5 linked regions of the Homo sapiens genome follow. The protein of the gene in region 3 purifies or fractionates together with the protein of the main gene of each other region. This does not show direct contact. Each region holds a gene or a part of one and is shown on either strand. Other genes may lie near its edges. The genes, in order: PIP, DBNL, MAP4K5, PCMT1 and SNX9.

Region 1 (3,006 bases), on a different chromosome or scaffold from region 3:
GTACATTAAACTGCACTGGTCTTTGGCAACACGTCCCACGTGCCATGCTAGGCATGCAACGGATTCTGATCTTTTATTGTACAAGTGGTGTAAATTCTGATTCATGACGATATGTTGTTGCTAATGTAACAGAAAGGTAAACAAGGCCGGGCACAGTGGCTTGTGCCTGTAATCCCAGCACTTTGGGAGGCCAAAGTGGGCAGATCACCTGAGGTCAGGAGTTCGAGACCAGCTTGGCCAACATGGTGAAACCCTGTCTCTACTAAAAATACAAAAATTAGCCAGGGCTGGTAGCACGCACCTGTAATCCCAGCTACTCAGGAGGCTGAGGCAGAAGAATCACTTGAACCTGGGAGGCGGAGGTTGCAGTGAGCCACGTTCGCACCATTGCACTCCAGCCTGGGCAACAGAGTGAGACTCTGTCTCTTAGAAAAAAAAAAAAAAGGGAAACAAGGCACAGGTAGTCTTCTCCAAAGAAACGCCAGGATTCTCCAAGGCATTCTGAGTAAAACTCCAAGGGTGAGAACACCTGAATTTACTGTTTAGGTCTGAACGGCTACTTGATGCTGAGTTGCCAGGTAGCTGAGCAAGCTGCAGGAGGTGGGCAGAATGGCACTGGGCCTCAGTCGTGACCATGAGCCAGTCTGATAACTGCCATACATTCAAGGTAGTACATTCAGGCTGTATTTCGGACCTCTGGATCCGTGCAATGATATGTACATATCTACTTTTCTCCTTGTGATAAAATCACACATACTGCTAATGGCACTGTGGTTCCTTGATGACATTCATAACAGAAGGAATGCTGAATTTCAATTAGAGGTTAGTAATAAAGATGCATATTTTTCCCCTGCCTGAGTCCACAGACTCACTGAATGCTATCCACAGATCCCTCTGGGTCTATGGACCCCAGGATAAAACTGCTGTGTTAAACGTTAACTGGACAAAATCCTCTGACTCCACTGAAATTTATATATACAATAATCTGGGATCTTGAATTGCAAAGCACTCAAGTTAAAAAGAAATTTACATTCAAGATGTTATTTGCTTATCTAACAGCCAGGTTTGGTAGTTAATTGTTTCCACCTCATACCTGAGGAAAGTGAGAGTGAGAGGCCTCTCATCACCAAAGGTCACCAAGTCAGAGAGGAGCACAGATGGGGCTTGGTCACAGCTCTGACAACAAGGCCTGACATTGGCTCCTACACGCAAGTGGCCAGGCTGCTGTCTCACCAGGTCTCAGAGTAAACGTGATTGCAGGTCGATTCCTGAAACCTCTGGCTGGTGACTAAGGCAAGCCTGCTCCTCAGCTGGACAGCTGCCCTGGATGAGCTCTCCTTGCCCTGTGGATTCACTTGCATCCCTATCTCCTCCTGAGCTTCTCCACACTGCTAAGGCAGGAGTTTGAGGGCATTGGAAGGGAAAACCTTCTGACCTAGACTTTGGCTCCTGAAATGATACTACAACAGTAGACTCCCCCTTGCCCTAGGCCCACCTCCACCCCCACTCTTCTCCTCCGGCTTTTCCCTCTCCTATTTTTCCCTCCCTTACCCATTCCCCAAAATAACAATGAATTCCCCCTCCCACCTTCTCCTCACCAGGTTAAAACTTACCTCATTAGCAGCATCCCTCTACAAGGTGCATTTAACTATAAGTATACTGCCTGCCTATGTGACGACAATCCAAAAACCTTCTACTGGGACTTTTACACCAACAGTAAGTACAGAAGTTGTCCAAGGAGGGAACTACCCACCAGCCACCAGGGAGGAGAAACTATAAACAGAAACATGGCTGCGAACCGAGCAGGACCAGGACCTCAGGGCAGAAGGACAGAAGGGAGGGAGGGAAGAGCATGGGGAGAGCAGATGGGGAAAGCACCCAGGTTCTAAGACAGAGGCATTGAGTGCAAAAAGTTGATACAGGAGACAAATTTGCAAAGGATTTGGGGAAACTGAACCCCAGGGGGCAGATGCCTGATATGAGTAGAAAAGACAGGACATGGCCGGGGTGTCTGAGAGATGATCTCCGTCCCTGTCTTTTTCAGGAACTGTGCAAATTGCAGCCGTCGTTGATGTTATTCGGGAATTAGGCATCTGCCCTGATGATGCTGCTGTAATCCCCATCAAAAACAACCGGTTTTATACTATTGAAATCCTAAAGGTAGAATAATGGAAGCCCTGTCTGTTTGCCACACCCAGGTGATTTCCTCTAAAGAAACTTGGCTGGAATTTCTGCTGTGGTCTATAAAATAAACTTCTTAACATGCTTCTCCATGTTCTGTTGTATCTCCAAAATCTGCTCCTGAAGAACCCCAGATTACCTGAAATTTCTAGAACATTTGTCTTTCAAAGAACCTTTACTGAGGAGATTGTACGGGTTCTCACTGCCCATTGGTATGAAGAGGGAGAGAAGAAGAAACTGGGAAGAGGAGCTATGCTCACAGAGAGGAAAAGCAGTGGCCCTAAAGTTCACGGCACAGGAGTGGCAGAGCCAGGGCAGGCACCAAGCCTCCCTGTTGCTTGACCTCTCTCCATCCCACTGCCCTCCAGCAACAGCTCAGATCCCAGAAGACAGGAGTCCTGTTGCATGCAGCAGAGTCAGGGATGGAGTCCATGGCCCCCTAAATGAGCAGTAGCATTCTATGCTATTCTGTTGCTTGTTTTCAATGGATTGTGACACTCAGGGATATCAGGGTCCTGTGCAGCTCTGCCTGAGGAGCTCAGGCATAATAGAGGAGTAAAGGGGCAGAGGGAGCCCTGAGGGGCTTCATCCCAGAGGGCCAGCCCATAGAAGTGGAATATGAGCAAGGATCAGGTGCACGAAGTGGGCAGAGGGCATTCTAGTAGATAGGACGCAGGCACCAAGAGCCCAAAGCATGAAATAGTGGCTTGCTCAGGGCAGGTAAACACTTTCATATTGGGCAGGATTAAGTATACATGGAAGAGTTAGAAGCAGATCTGGCAAGAGGACAGGAGCAAAATCAGGAGAGGCCGAGTGAATCTGGGC
Region 2 (3,924 bases), on a different chromosome or scaffold from region 3:
GCCTTTTTTCTTTTTCTCTTGCTTCTAAGGGGTGGTGGCCACCACTGTTTAGAATGACCCTTGGGAACAGTGAACGTAGAGAATTGTTTTTAGCAGAGTTTGTGACCAAAGTCAGAGTGGATCATGGTGGTTTGGCAGCAGGGAATTTGTCTTGTTGGAGCCTGCTCTGTGCTCCCCACTCCATTTCTCTGTCCCTCTGCCTGGGCTATGGGAAGTGGGGATGCAGATGGCCAAGCTCCCACCCTGGGTATTCAAAAACGGCAGACACAACATGTTCCTCCACGCGGCTCACTCGATGCCTGCAGGCCCCAGTGTGTGCCTCAACTGATTCTGACTTCAGGAAAAGTAACACAGAGTGGCCTTGGCCTGTTGTCTTCCCCTATTTTCTGTCCCAGCTCATCCGTGTCTCTGAAGAACAAATATGCTTTTGGACCACGAATTCCCAGTTTGGTCTACACAGGCTCGCAGCTCTCACCTGTCCTGCTGTAGCCTGAATGCTCCCATGTGGGAATAGCACCCCACCACCTGCCCAGTGTCTGCCTCTGCTCCGTGTCTGGGGTGAGCACCCTCACCCTGAGACTGTGGCTGATGATGATCAGCCACCAGGAAGAGGCTAAATGTTAAGATGGGACTGAAGTTGGAGCCTTCCTGCGTTCCAGTTCCTCTAGGAGAGGCCAAGGGCTGCCCTGCTCCCAGCTTCAGGGAGCCTCTGCCTACATGGGATGGCCCACTGTGTGGCGTCAGGTACCTGGCACCCACTGAGCATCCGGGGAATTAGGTCCCTCCTGTGCCCCAGAGCTGCTAGGCAGACTGCTAGGCGGTTGACTCAAGGTGTTACCTGCTAGTGCCTGGGGTGAAGGCTGCATGGAGCCCAACCTTGCTCCTGGCCTTCCTGTGCTCAGGCCTCTCCCCTTTTCGCCAGGGCTTCCTGGTGCCTCTCCCATGAAGAGGGAACTTCCCCTCCACTCCCATGGAAGACCCAGGTTTGGGCTGTTGCCAGCTTTGAGGCCCCCTGTGGGCTTGCCTGTCCCAACCCAAGAGGCAGGGCTCAAAGTGCCACCCGGGGGTTGCAAGGACAGCAGAGGACCACCTGCCCTCTGCAGGAAGCTGTCCAGGAAGCCGTGTCCTGGGCTGTGGTCCTTGCTCCCCATGGGGAGAGCTGGGTCACTTGGCCTCTTCTAACTGGCCCCAAGCACGCCAATTCTGGAGCATGGTTACTAAGTGGCTCTGAAGCTTCAGGGTCACCACAGGCTTGTCCTGACTGCAAACTCATGGAGTGGTTGCAGCCCTGGCTCAGTGTCCTGATGACTAGGTGTGGGTACTAGGCTCCTGCCCCTGGTGACACACGTATGGAGTGGGGGAGGGTGGGTGGCTGCACCCCTGGTTCTGGAGTCCCCACAGCTGATGGCGGTGTGAGCCTGGCATGCACGGCTGCGCTGGACTCCAGGCTGTTGGGGGAGGTGCCTTTATTGCCCAAGCCCACCCCTCACTTGGCCTTGCCCTGGGCAGCCACAGCCTCCATGGCCTTCCGCACCGTTTCCTCATCACCCAGGAACTGCATGGGCTTGGTGGGCTTCAGCTCCTTGTTCAGCTCATACACAATGGGGATCCCCGTGGGCAGGTTCAGCTCCATGATCGCCTGGTCTGACATCCCTATGCCGGAAGGAATAGGTGTCCTTAGCCCCTCTGTCCCCAGCCTGTTTACACAGCAGACACTATGTGACCTTTATGGTCCACAGAGCCAGTTCCCCTGGCACCAATTCCTTCCCAGCCCTGAGAACGAGGCCACAGAAATGTTGCCAAAGGTCAAGGAGTAACTGAGTTAGACCAAGCAGCCTACAGAAATAGCCCAGTGGTGAAAAAAATGGGGACTTCAGCCCCACCCAAGTGGCTGTGATCTGTGGTGGTGCTGTCCATAGTTCCCTCAGCCCAGTGTGACTCCAGCCAGACTGAAGTTGAGGGTCAGGAAGGGACACTCACCCTTTGTTTTTTTTTTTTCTTTTCTTTTTCTTTTTCTTTTTTTTGAGATGGAGTTTTACTCCTCTTGCCCAGGCTGGAGTGCAGTGGCACGATCTTGGCTCACTGCAACCTCCATCTCCTGGGTTGAAGTGATTCTGCCTCAGCCTCCCAAGTAGCTGGGATTACAGGTGAGCGCCACCACACCCGGCTAATTTTGTATTTTTAGTAGAAACGGGTTTTACCATGTTGGTCAGGCTGGTCTCAAACTCCTGACCTCAGGTGATCTGCCTGCCTCAGCCTCCCAAAGTGCTGGGATTACAGGAGTGAGCCACCGTGCCCAGCACCCTTTGGTTTCTAAAGTGCTCTAAATTCTAGACATCCTGAACAGAGGAGCAAGTGCGGAATGGAGCTGGAGGAGGGACAGGGAGGCCGAGCCTGGTCGAAACCTGACCCTGCCTGCCTCCTGCAGCCCCTGAGCTGGGAATAGCAGCTCGACCTTTGATGTTCGCGCCACTCCACCCCTGCTCCGTGCAGGAGGGTTTAAGAAAATGTTCTCTGGGGAGTCAGAGTGAAATCCCTCATATTCACCACCAAAAGTGCGTCCCCTTTCCCCAAACCAGGCTGTGGGAGGGTCATGGGGCTGCATGAAGTCTCCGGAAGGGAGAGGAGGCAGGTGGTCCTTCCCTCTGCCTGGCCCCAGTGCCAGGTGCCAGGTGTCCGTGTTTGGAGCGGGCAGGCTTGGGGCTGGCTGGGTCTCCGGGGCCTGCCGGTCTGGGTGCTCTGGCCAACTGCCCAACGGCCCTAGGAGCAGGAGGTCTGGGGCACACCCTTCTAGCCTTTCCAGGACTCAACAAGCTTTAAGGTCATTCAGATGCTAATTTAGACTGCCCTTGTGTCAGAATACTAAGGTGGGAGGCGGAGCGGAGGTGCCAGTCACTCTGGGCGAGGCCTTACTGCGCCCATGCATCCCGGGCCCATTTGTCAGCCCTTGCTCTTCAGTGGGAGCCCAGCTGCAAGCCCAGAGTCTGGCCACTCCATAGTCCTGCACCCCTCTTTTGATTGGTCTTTCCTTTGCCCAGAGAGGGGCTCCAGAGGGAGATAGGTGGTGAAGCTCATGCAGGGATTCTGAGGACCTGATGGGGGAGGGCCCTGCGAGGGGTCCAAGCCTACATCAAGAGGAATTCAGTACCAGGGGGAGCTCCCCACCACCCCGGAAAAGGGAGAGGCCCAGAGATGGAGGTGGCTTGTCCAGGGCCCCACAGTAAGTTGGGATTTGGAGCCAGATGCTCTAAGCCCAGCCCTTCCGTTTCCTAGCTGGGTGTCCCTTGGCAGATGCCACCTTTGGAGCCTGCCCCACCTCGGGACACAGCGAGCTTCGAGTGCAGTCAGCCCCTGTGGAGTGTGTCCCAGTTACACAGAAATGGGGAAAATTTCACAAAACTAAAAAATGGCTTCTCAGCCCTCCTTTTTCAGTGAATGATGTGGAGCCCCACGCCTAGAAAGCCTGGTCCATGGGCGAGAGACTTTGCTGAGATGAGAAGCCAGCTGGGGCTGCTGCCCACCCACCCTGCCCAGGCTCCTGAAGGTGGCCTCACCTTCCAGGTGCTTGACAATGCCCCGCAGGCTGTTCCCGTGGGCTGCAATGAGCACTCGCTTGCCGGCCTTGATCTGGGGAACAATCTCCTCGTTCCAGAAGGGCAGGGCCCGGGCAATGGTGTCCTTGAGGCTCTCGCAGGTGGGGAGTTCCCCGGGCTTCAGGCCTGCGTACCGACGCTCCTGGGGGACACAGGCACGCTGCTTTCCCTCCCAAGCCAGTGGGCCCCCACCCGACTCCCCACTCTGCAGCTTCCCAGAGGCCTTCCCAGCAAAGGCAGCCCACCTTGCTAATGGAGTTGTAGTAGGGGTGCTTCTCGTCCATCGGGGGCGGCGGGATGTCGAAGGAGCGCCTCCAGATCTTCACCTGCT
Region 3 (3,924 bases):
CACTACACTGCAGCCTAAGTGAAAAAGTAAGACCCTGTCTCAAAAAAATAAAAATAAATAATTGAAAAGGTCCAAATTCTTTGATATGACACATGGAGTCCATTAGCTGGTGTTTCCTGCCAGAAAATAGCCTCTATTCTCCATCTATAAAATAATAAAAATAAATAATTGAAATGACATCTCTGCCAGATGTCACACTGAACCTGGAATGAATACAGATGCAGATCTCTCAAAACTCATCACGGCTTCTCAAGCCTCCAGGTGTTTGCACATACTATACCCAAAGCCTGGAATATCTTTTCCTATCTTCTCTACCTAGAAACCACTGGTCTTCTTTTAAAAATCCAGTTAATGTTCCTTCCTCTGTTAATCTTCCTTGGTTCACACTCCTCTCTCTCCCTTCCTTCATCCCCAATAAAGGCAGAGTTTGGCATTTCTTCCACTTCTCCTCTATGGCACATAATTTTCTACCAAATTATGACTGCTTACATGTCTGCTTTCTTTTTTCTTTTTTGAGATGGAGTTTTGCTTTTGTTGCCCAGGCTGGAGTGAAGTGGCGCAATCTCAGCTCACTGCAACCTCCGACCCCCGGGTTCAACCAATTCTCTTGCCTCTCCCAAGTAGCTGGGATTATAGGCACCTGCCACCATGCCCGGCTAATTTTTGTATTTTTAATAGAGATGGGGTTTTGCCATGTTGGCCAGGCTGGTCTCAAACTGCTGACCTCAGGTGATCCACCAGCCTTGGCCTCCCAAAGTGCTAGGATTACAGGCGTGAGCCACTGCGCCTGGCCACGTCTGTTTTCTTGACTAAACCATATGTTCCTTATTGACAGTGTACTTCATCTCATGTTTGCATCCCCATATCCTAACACATTGTCAGCACTCAACAAATACTTCTTTAATGAATGAATGCTTCTAGAAGTGTGATGATACATTAAGCTTTGTCTCTATAAAATGGGATCTTGGGATATGTTTCAAAGTGCCTAAAGCCATTCCAGAATGGTGACTCTTGGCTGGAGGAAAAGAAAGTAAAGGCATACATAAAGGAGATTCCCCATAGCAGACCTAATTCATCTAGCATCCAGAGGAACCCACGTTAGTGATAAGACTACATGACAAAGACTTCTACGCAAATTATAACATCATTTATAATTGCAAAAAAAAAAGTTTAAAAACTAGAAATAACAAATATGCAACTTAGAATGATTAACTAAATGAAGGCTCATTCAACGGATCCTTTAAAAATAGTACTTTTGACTGGGTGTGGTGGCTCACCCTGTAATTCCAGCACTTTGGGAGGCCAAGGTGGGCAGATCACGAGGTCAGGAGATTGAGACCATCCTAGTCAACCTGGTGAAACCCCGTCTCTACTAGAAATACAAAAATTAGCTGAGTGTGGTGGCACATGCCTGTAATCCCAGCTACTCAGGAGGCTGAGGCAGGAGAATCACCTGAACCAGGGAGTCAGGAGGTTGCAGTAAGCTGAGATTGCGCCACCGCACTCCAGCCTGGCGACACTGCAAGACTCCGTCTCAAAAAAAAAAGTACTTTTGTATGATTACACCACTGCACTCTAGCCTGGGCAAAAGAGCAAGACCCTGTCATCCAAAAAAAAAAAAAAATGTACTTTTGTAGAATATTTAACGACTAGGGAAAATGCTGGTCATTTCAATCAAACAGAAAAAAGACCTGTATCATATTCCCAATCATAAATTAAATATAAAAGCCATTTTGGAAATACTGATTTAAAAACATTTAGGAAATAAGCCTGAAATAAACTGTATTAAATTATTAGCAGTACCTATCTCTGAGTAATTTTCTACAACTAATTTGTTCAACAAATATTTATTGAGCATTTGTTTGTTACATTACAAAGATGTGCAAGAGACATCTGTTTCTGTCCCCTGGGAACTAAACATGTTATTCTTCTATAATCAATCAGATAAAGCAATAAAGCTTAGAAAAAAATTCATAGGATTGCCCAGTCTAAATTTATATTCTATGAAAGGTAAAATAATAATAATAATAATAATAAATAAATAAATAAAAATAAAAATAAAAAGCCAGATTGCCAGAACTTCTCTGAAATCTAGGCTGGAAGCAATTTTGATACAAATATTTGGATAAGGGCTGCCCAAATGGCTTGTACTACTGATTATGAACTGTATCATGATGCTGTAGTTGTTATAGATCCTTGTGGTCAGAGGTAGTTGAGAATCTAAATCTCCAGATTTATCCTTCCTGCTGGCAGATCTACATTTTTACAGTAATTACAAATAAAAGCTGCTCAGTTGACATTTAATCCTTCATCCACCATCCACCAAATTCCTTTTCTCTTCTGTGTTTCTTTTCCCTCTACCATTTCCTGCTCTTGCCCTCAATGATTCACTCCATTTATCTAAAAGAATCTTTATGTTCCTCCTCTTCTTTCAACCAAAGAACAGCCAATATAAGATTGAACTCTCCCTCTTGGGGATTCTCAGGAAAGATGGAAGCTTCAGAGGGGATCTGTGGTATTGATGAACATAAAAGTAAATTACGAAGAATCTCAAAGCCAGAGTCCTTTAAAGCTTCTGCTTCAAAAGATACCTAAGGTGTAAAAAAAAAAAAAAAAAAAAAGGCAGGGAAAAATCCAGGCTTGGTGGCTCACACCTATTAATCCCAGCCCTTTGGGAGACTGAGGCAGAAGCATCACATGGGGTCAAGAATTTGAGACTAGCTTGGGCAACACAGGAAGACCCTGTCTTTACATTAAAAAAAAAAAAAATTAGCCAGGCATGTTGCCACACACACTTGTAGTCCCAGCTACTGAGGAGGCTGAGGAGAGAGAATCCCTTAAGCCCAGGAGTTCAAGGCTGCAGTGAGCTGATCGTGCCACTGGACTCCAGCCTAAAGCACAAGACCATCTCTCAAAAACACAGGGGGATATTATCTGAGTAGAACAGTGGCTAATTTACCTTCATTATTCTTTACTGCAGGTATTTCACTAGTTTATATCCTACATTGAAAATACTTCTAAAACGTCCTAGGATGTTCAGCTCATCAGAAACACAGTGATAAATAGCAAAATTACTCTAATTGCCCAGAGCTTAAAAAATTCAGCACTACAGTTTCAGGTTATGTGTTTTTAGGCATACTAAGGAGTAAATTTAAACTGACAAAATTCTATAGGACTTAGATCACTGATAGTGGATATACTATAAAATAGTTTTTCAGAAATATTTCCCCAGAGAACTCAAATAGATGAAATTTGTAATAAAAATACACACGCAGGGTATCATTAGACAGCATCACAGGGCCGGATGTGGTGGCTCATGCCTGTAATTTCAATACTTTGGGAGGCCGAGGCAGGCAGATCATTTAAGCTCAGGAGTTCGAGACCAGACTGGGAAACATGGCAAGACCTCCTCTCTACTAAAAAAAAATACAAAAATTAGCCAGACATGGTGGCACACACCTGTAGTGCCAGCTACTTGGGGGGCTGAGGTGGGAGGATCACTTCAGCCCGGGAGGTTGAGGCTTCAATGAACCAAGATCACACCACTGCCCTCTAGCCTGGGGGACAGAGCGACATCCTGTATCCAAACAAACAGACAAACAGAAGGCATTACAGGAATACATAGAGTATTAAATGCTAACTTAGTGCTATGATGTCAAAAGCATGTGCTCAGAGAACTAAGTGACAGAGTCTGATATTCATTCATTCATTCATTCATCAAATTTTTAGGAAGTACTTACTCTGTGGCAGGCATAATCAGAGACAGAGCAGTGAAGAGATTAAAATCCCTGCCATCATGGAGTATTTTAGTGAATCAAGATAGATAATAAACAAGAAAAAAATAAGTAAAACATTATGTTGGTGATAAGTACAAAGCAAAAAATAGAGTAGGAAAAAAAGATCGGGAGGATGTGAAAAAAAGGA
Region 4 (3,924 bases), on a different chromosome or scaffold from region 3:
ACAGAAATATTATGCAGATAGTACAGTTCCTGTGTACTTTTGTCCACACAGTCTTACCATTGGTAAAGCAAATCTCACCATTTGCTTTATCATTTATTCTCTCTCCCTTTATCCCCTCTCTCCTCTGTGTGTGTGTGTGTGTGTGTATGTGTGTGTATTATATTTCCGTTTTTCTGAGCTCTTTGAGGGTAAATTACAGGCATAATGCTCTTTACCTTTAACTTTTTTTGAGATGGAGTCTTGCTCTGTCGCCCAGGCTGGGGTGCAGTGGTGCAGTGGCACGTTCTCAGCTCACTGCAAGCTCCGCCTCTCGGGTTCACGCCATTGTCCTGCCTCAGCCTCCCAAGTAACTGGGACTACAGGCGCCCACCACCACGCCCAGCTAATTTTTTGTATTTTTAGTAGAGATGGGGTTTTACTGTGTTAGCCAGGATGGTCTCGATCTCCTGACCTCGTGATCCGCCTCGGCCTCCCAAAGTGCTGGGATTACAGGTGTGAGCCACTGTGCCCGGCCAATGCTCTTTACCTTTAAAAATAAGGACATTCTCTTACATACCCATAGTACAATTTTTGAAATCTGGAAGTCAGCATTGATATAACACTATTAGCCAATTTATAGACCTTATTCAGATTTCATCAATTATTCTGATAATATTCCTTATAGGAAAAGAAAATAGTAGATTGTGAGTTTTATTTGATTGTCATGTCTTTTTAGTTTCCTTTAAAGAATGACTGAGAAATGGTTCCTTATTCTTTTATGACCTTGAAAACCTTGAAAATTTTTACGAATATGGGCCATTTATTTTGTATAATGTCCCTCAATTTGGGTTTGTTTGATGTTTCCTCATAATTCAATATAGGTTATGCATTTTTGCCTGGCATATCCCAGAAATGAAGTATCTTAGCAGAGGCATTTGATGTCAGTGTGTCCCATAATTGTGGTGTTAACTTTGATCATCTGATTAAGGTAGTGTTGACCCAGTTTTTCCACTGGAGAACTTTTTTCTGAACTCCATTGTAAAATTACTATTTTTCCTTTTGTGATTAATAATTATCTGGGGCAAACCCTTTGAGATTATGTAAATATCCTGTTTATTTTTCAAATGTTAGTCCACTAGTTTTAGCTTCCATTTATGATTTTTACCTGAATCAATCAGTTATTATTGAGATGGCTGCCCAAAGGCTGATTTTCTTAATTTTTTCTATGTGCATTCATTATGTATCTATATATTTGTTGGGAACGGTTTTCCCTATTTTTCATTTATATATGTATAGAATGATGTATTAATTTATCACTATAGATTAATGGATGGGTATTTTTATCAACCAAGATCTGGTAGTAAATGTGTTTACTGCTATTGGATCTGATTTTTTTTTTTTTTTTTTTTTTTTTGAGATGGAGTCTCGCTCTGTTACAGCCCAGGCTGGAGTGCAGTGGCATGATCTCGGATCACTGCAATCTCCCCGTCCCGGGTTCAAGCAGTTCTCTGCCTCAGCCTCCCGAGTAGCTGGGATTACAGGTGGCTGCCACCATGCCCAGCTAATTTTCTTGTATTTTTAGTAGAGATGGAGTTTCACCATCTTAGCCAGACTGGTCTTGAACTCCTGACCTCGTGATCTACCTGCCTCAGCCTCCCAAAGTGCTGGAATGTCAGGCCTGAGCCACCACGCCCAGCCTGATCTGATTATTTTTAATAATGAGAATACTGGCTGGGTGTGGTGGCTTATGTATGTCATCCCAGCACTTTGGGAGGCCGAGGTGGGCGGATCACCTGAGGTCGAGAGTTCGAGACCAGCCTGACCAACATGGAGAAACCTCATCTCTATTAAAAATACAAAATTAGCCTTTGTATTTTTGTATTTGCTTATATATGCAAAGAATCTATTCCTTCCTTTTTGGAAGGAGTCACAAGAAACTAGTAATATTGGTTACCTTTACAGAGTGAAACCTGGATGGTTGGAAATGGGAGTAGGGTGGAGACTTTTCACTTATAAATCTTTTAATTTTTTTACTGAATTAATTAAAAGTTAAAAATTCACACACTGGAGGTCTAAAATTACTGAAACACATGATCTGAATGTAAGAATTCTAATCAAACAGTTTACTTAAGTAATACCTGGGCAGATAGCCAAGATAACTTGGTTATCTTGGTAGATGACAATAGTAGAAAAATTGGTAGAAAGTTGGCAACTTTATTTATATACCATGATGTGTGTACTTTAGTCTTAATGAATATTTTGTTTTCTTTTGGCAGCATGCATATGCGCTAGAACTTCTATTTGATCAGTTGCATGAAGGAGCTAAAGCTCTTGATGTAGGATCTGGAAGTGGAATCCTTACTGCATGTTTTGCACGTATGGTAAGAGTTTTATTTCTCACTCTGGCCCCAACAGAAGAATATTATATGATTTGGCTGTATGTTTTTTTAACTAGTGGTTTTCATGTTTATTTGTTTGTTAATTCTATTAGGATAGCAGTTGGAATGAGCATCACTTAGGATTTTGTTGTTGTTGCAAGTGACAGAACATGCAACCCAAACTGGCAGAGCTAAAAGGGAGTTTATTTAGTTCATATAACAGAAAAGTCTAGGGGTGTATACGGTCTGTTGTGTGGCTGGATTTAGAAGAGCAGATGTTGTTATTGACGATAGGGTTCTCTCTGTTTCTTGATTTGGCTTTACTTTCCTCCACATGTTGGTGTCATTATCCGGTAAGCTCTACCCTTGTAATCACAAGATGGTGGCCAGTAGCTCCCAAACTACCTTCTTCCAAGTTCTGATTTGGCAGAAAAGAATAGAATAAGCCTGGTTTTCTTTTCTTTTTTTTTTTTTTTTCTTCTTAAAAACAGAGGTTTTATTGCATTTGGTCCACAGTTGGTATTTCACCTTATCTCATGGTGCAGGGACCCTGGGTAGGGGACTCTCTACAGTACTTGGTGGGGCATGTGGCTGGGGGAGACAGAGCAGTATAGCTGGTCAGGCCCAGAAGGGGAGAAGGAAGGCTGGAGGCTCCTTAAAACCTACTGAGGGACCAGACGCGGTGGCTCACACCTATAATCCCAGCACTTTGGGAGGCTTAGGCAGGCAGATCACATGAGGCCAGGAGTTCGAGACCAGCCTGGCCAACGTGGTGAAACCCCATCTCTACTAAAAATAGAAAAATTAGCCAGGCATGGTGGAGCACCTGCAGTCCCAGCTATTCAGGAGGCTGAGGCAGGAAAATCCCTTGAGCCCAGGAGGTGGAGGTGCAGTAAGCCTTGATTGCACCACTGCACTCCAGCCTGGGCAACAACAACAACAACAAAAACCTACTGAGGCACAGTGTGGGGGGTGGGCTTAGCATGGAGAGGGGGTCAGGCTTAGCCCCGACAACTCAGAATTCTACTTCCTTGTACAGGCCTCAGTTTCCCCACCGGGCCCTGGGACATGTCTGAGGGTCCCAGGGAAATCCAGTCACTCAGGAGCCTGAGATATTTAGCATCGTAGCTGGGCCCCGTCTCCCAGGGGACTCATTTCCCAGCACCCTCTCCACTGTCCCTGCCCAGAATGAGCCTGGTTTCTAAACATTCCTGCAGATTTACCAGGATGAAGGTAAAACTTCTGCATTAGAAAAAGTGCTCTTAGAAAAATAATGCCTTGTTATACTTCTGCCTTTTCTCATCAGAGTCTTATCTGGTCAATGGCTATCCAGAGTATTAACTGGGGACCCACTAATATATGTTGGAGTAAAGGTTGATCATTGCTTAGATCATCACATCAGTTTGATTTGAGAAATATCGTGCCTGGAGGACAGATTGGAATATTCTGATCTAGTTAAATTGGGAGTTGTGGATCCACCTTGGACTAGAATCCATGTAACTTGCTATAAATGTATAATCAGCAGACTTACTAGAATGTAAGCTCCAGGGAGTTGGAAATTTTGTCT
Region 5 (3,924 bases), on a different chromosome or scaffold from region 3:
TTTCTGCCAGCCCTATATGTTTAACTGATGAACTCAATTCAAATATTTATGTTTCTTCCCTTGTAAAGTACATGTATGTTATCAGAATAAGGTACCCTTTCAGATATATGGGTAATAGTGTTTTTGGTAATAGTGTTTTTTCCAGTAAACCAGCTGTCAAATTGAGATAAGGAGCTACCAAATGGAAGCTGGGAGTTAAAGACATCATTGAGAATATCTGTCTTAGAATTACTTGGTTATTGCATAATGTGACACAAGCCCTTCGGTTTCATTCCACATTTTGATTGGTGGTAGATTTTCTGTCTAGGTGATATTTAGTTGTAGATTCCCAAATGAAATTCTGGAAAAGAGAACTGTAGCTATCTTCTGATCCTATTGACTTAACCCTGTAACAATTAGATTGGGAACCTGAAGCCTTGAGTGTTCTCATCCTGGACTCAATCGAGGATGAGGAAACATCTGGTCTTATTCTGTAGTCTTTGGAAACTTGATAAAATTGCAGGAATAGTATTAGATTCTCTAATTACTTGTGCCTGCATGTTTGAAAAACTCCAAATCCTGGAAGCCTCCAAGCTGAAGAGCTGTAACCAAGAGCCCTTTTTATGCTTTTTCCCTCAAAGCAAATTTGGGATAATTAACTTCTGAGTAGTTATATTAAAGATTTTTTTTTCCTGTTTTCTCTGGACTTAATAAAAATTGAACATGTACCATTATTCTTTTCATGACATTTAAAACTCCTCAAAATCAAGAGCGCACAGCTCTGCCTCAGTTTTGTTTTTTTGTTTGTTTGTTTGTTTTTAAGACAGAGTCTCACTCTGTCACCCAGGCTGGAGTGCAGTGGTGTGATCTTGGCTCACTGCAACCTCTGCCTCCCGGGTTCAAGCAATTCTCCTGCCTCAGCCTCCCGAGTAGCTGGGATTACAGGCATGCACCACCACGCCTAGCTAATTTTTTTTGTATTTTATAGTAGAGACGGGGTTTCACCATATTGGCCAGGCTGGTCTTGAACTCCTGACCTTGTGATCCGCCCACATTGGCCTCCCAAAGTGCTGGGATTACAGGTATGAGCCACTGCGCCCGGCCTGCCTCACATTCTTAAAGGGGACTTTGTCCCAGGTTTGCAGTGGTGGTACAGAGCTAAGGGTTCCAGCCTTTCATTGACCGGCAAGTTTTAAGTAGAACTGCACCCATGCACCCAGTAGGCAGGTCTGCCTGTGTGGGCGTCTATACATGGAAGAAGCTGAGGAAAGCCACCGCGTCTTCAGGAGGCCCAGAGAAAGCAGAGACTAACTCTTTGCTCTAAAAGTGCAGTAACCTTGCCCACTCATGAAACAGAGCCCCGTGAAATTGGGCCTTAGCCAAGCACAGTTGCTGCTCTCGGCCCACTCACTGAGGGAGGTCCCGAAAGTCATCTCCTCTGCAGCTTTCAGCTAGTTTCTTGGATCTGGGCTCTCCCTGAGGGGGTTATAGTAATTGTTCTCAGAGATTTTAGTCTCTTTTTAAACTACTCTTATCCTTGGAGTAGGTCACCTTCCTGACCTAACAGCCTCTGAACTTTAATATCCCAATCCGCTTTTCCCATCTTCCTCTTAAAAAAAAAAATTAGGACTGGGTATACCTTTTTTTCCTTTTTATGTCTGTCTGGCCTTGCCTCTCTGAGGTCTCAGCCGAAACAAATCTCTCTTCCTTCAGCGCAATCTGTGTGATTTTTCTCATTTTCTTTTTACTTTCTTATGGTACTTTTTCAAGTCTGCAAGAATAAAACCTGTTCCATAAATTATTTCATTCTCCTTGAATCTCTGAATGAATCTCTGAGTGAATCTGCTTCCTGAATAGTGGTCCTTTTACAGTCCATGTGTTTGTTTTTTCATTCTCTTCTTGGATTATAACTCAATTATTTTTCATTTTCAAGCCAAGAAGATAGATAACATTCTCAGTATAATAAGGACTTCTATTGCTCTGAAATGTGTTTTGATAAGAGCTACTGTCCTGCAGTCTGAACCTCTAGAATCTGTCATTGTGATCAAAGTTTATGAAATGAATGAGGCAGAACCAACTTGAGACTATTGGTGACTCAGGTAGTGATTCCAGAAGCCTGTACATGAGCTCCAGCATCCAGGTTCCTCTGCAGCTGCCCCCATGGCCTTGGATGCTGTTTTAAATAAGATGAAAAAACCAGGTTTGGGACAGCAGACCTATTGTCACCTAGCAGTGCCTAGAAGAAATGATCCTCAGGCTCAAAACTTACACGAGGTCTCTACACCCCCACATAGAATTTAGCTGGTTTCCCTTCCTCACCTCCCACCACAACTAAAACCCCAGTGAGCTAGTGTAAGCCTCGCCTGAATTTGTGAACTTTTGCCCTAGTCACAGATAGAAGAGAAGGCCAGTGAGAAAAGAATGGAGGCCTACCCTCTTCAGGCAAGCCTTGCCCAGGTGGACGTGATACCCGGGGGTTGGAAGTGAGCCAGCCCACTGTGCTTAGGCACATAGCAGTCCACGGAAGAAAACAGCTAGCCTGGTTCTTGCTTTTAAGATGTAGTACCTCCCCCTCCCCCCACCTTGCCACTAGTAGTAAAACAATGACTATCAGGCTCTGGCCAATCTGATTAATCGTTTCTATGAGCCAGAACAATGCTACTCAAAGTATGGTCCACAGACCACTTGCCCATCTGAAAACTGCTTGTTCCTGATCCACCGTGAGATAGGTACAGTACATGAGAATATTTTGAAAACTTGAGGACAATTTGGTATTGTTGAAAAATCAAAATGTGTAATGTTATATTTCACCAAACTATTAGTCTGTGATAGATTCGAAATTTTTAAAAACTAGTCCTTCATCACGTGTAGCTTGAGACAGCTAGACTAGAAAGAAACATTGTCTTGTAACCAGCACTGTCCTTGGGAGAGGGAAGCTGGTGTCTCCTCTCCATGGGCTGAGCTACTCACGTGGGAGCAGAAGGGTTTCCCACAGGTGTGTTCTTTAAACATAATATCTAACAGGAACAGAAACCATTGAACCATTTATGTACCTTTCAAAGAGGAACAAGAATGACCCTCCAAAGGACTTCTCATTCTGAAAAGAATTACTTGCTGATTCACATCAATTGTATTTATTATTTTTCCATGTAACAAAATTACTTCTTTCTGGAACATTGGCATAGGTTGGAGATTATGGCCCAATGTGGGTTTATCCTACCTCTACTTTTGACTGTGTGGTAGCAGATCCCAGGAAAGGCTCCAAAATGTATGGTCTAAAGAGCTACATCGAATATCAGCTAACACCTACTGTAAGTATCCACGTTATCAAAAGCAGAATCATGTTTGGATCACTGATTGCAGCTTGCTTTTTTCTTCATTTTCTAGAGTTGGCATTGGTAACCTTTTCTCTTTCCCTTATTTTGTAGAACACTAATCGATCTGTAAACCACAGGTATAAGCACTTTGACTGGTTATATGAGCGTCTCCTGGTTAAGTTTGGGTCAGCCATTCCAATCCCTTCTCTTCCAGACAAACAAGTCACAGGTGAGTGTGTGTAATGCTAAACCCAGGATGACAAATAGAAAGACTCCAGTCAGATTATCTTCCTGTAAGTCAGTGATGGCATTTTCCATCCTGTAGAGCAGCAGGATGCAGGAGTTGGAAACAGTAATTAAATACAGCTATGAAGAGAGAACCATTGCATGTTGTACATCTATCTGGAAGTTGCCTAAACGTCTCACAAGAACGTTTAATGTGCAAATCACAGGTTTTGGTATGTGTCTGGAATTCCAGCAGTCATTGTCTTCATTGCTGTACCTTTTCTACAAAAGAAATGTGTACATTTAAAATATGTGAAAAATGACACCTGAAAAAATAGAAATAATTCAAATAGCCTAAAATGGAAATAAAAATGTATGACCCACATGATGCAAACAGGTTATG

What was found.
Region 1: the proteins of MAP4K5 (region 3) and PIP purify together in Homo sapiens (affinity purification with mass spectrometry, with the first as the bait; one study listed by BioGRID). This does not show direct contact.
Region 2: the proteins of MAP4K5 (region 3) and DBNL purify together in Homo sapiens (affinity purification with mass spectrometry, with the first as the bait; one study listed by BioGRID). This does not show direct contact.
Region 4: the proteins of MAP4K5 (region 3) and PCMT1 purify together in Homo sapiens (affinity purification with mass spectrometry, with the first as the bait; one study listed by BioGRID). This does not show direct contact.
Region 5: the proteins of MAP4K5 (region 3) and SNX9 purify together in Homo sapiens (affinity purification with mass spectrometry, with the first as the bait; one study listed by BioGRID). This does not show direct contact.

Annotation. Positions count from the first base shown.
Region 1 is NC_000007.14:143,137,474-143,140,479, forward strand, and holds the end of PIP (prolactin-inducible protein precursor), read left to right. Parts: intron 1-1,601; coding exon 1,602-1,716; intron 1,717-2,044; coding exon 2,045-2,169; 3' UTR 2,170-2,266; downstream 2,267-3,006.
Region 2 is NC_000007.14:44,061,278-44,065,201, forward strand, and holds part of DBNL (drebrin-like protein), read left to right. Parts: 3' UTR 1-1,486; coding exon of another isoform or gene 1,487-1,653; 3' UTR 1,654-3,554; coding exon of another isoform or gene 3,555-3,735; 3' UTR 3,736-3,838; coding exon of another isoform or gene 3,839-3,924. Other genes in the region: PGAM2 (phosphoglycerate mutase 2), read right to left, coding at 1,487-1,653, 3,555-3,735, 3,839-3,924. UniProt on the Homo sapiens protein: Adapter protein that binds F-actin and DNM1, and thereby plays a role in receptor-mediated endocytosis.
Region 3 is NC_000014.9:50,525,803-50,529,726, forward strand, and holds part of MAP4K5 (mitogen-activated protein kinase kinase kinase kinase 5), read right to left. Parts: intron 1-3,924. UniProt on the Homo sapiens protein: May play a role in the response to environmental stress. Appears to act upstream of the JUN N-terminal pathway.
Region 4 is NC_000006.12:149,787,699-149,791,622, forward strand, and holds part of PCMT1 (protein-L-isoaspartate(D-aspartate) O-methyltransferase), read left to right. Parts: intron 1-2,255; coding exon 2,256-2,360; intron 2,361-3,924. UniProt on the Homo sapiens protein: Initiates the repair of damaged proteins by catalyzing methyl esterification of L-isoaspartyl and D-aspartyl residues produced by spontaneous isomerization and racemization of L-aspartyl and L-asparaginyl residues in aging peptides and proteins.
Region 5 is NC_000006.12:157,906,501-157,910,424, forward strand, and holds part of SNX9 (sorting nexin-9), read left to right. Parts: intron 1-3,164; coding exon 3,165-3,290; intron 3,291-3,407; coding exon 3,408-3,525; intron 3,526-3,924. UniProt on the Homo sapiens protein: Involved in endocytosis and intracellular vesicle trafficking, both during interphase and at the end of mitosis. Required for efficient progress through mitosis and cytokinesis. Required for normal formation of the cleavage furrow at the end of mitosis.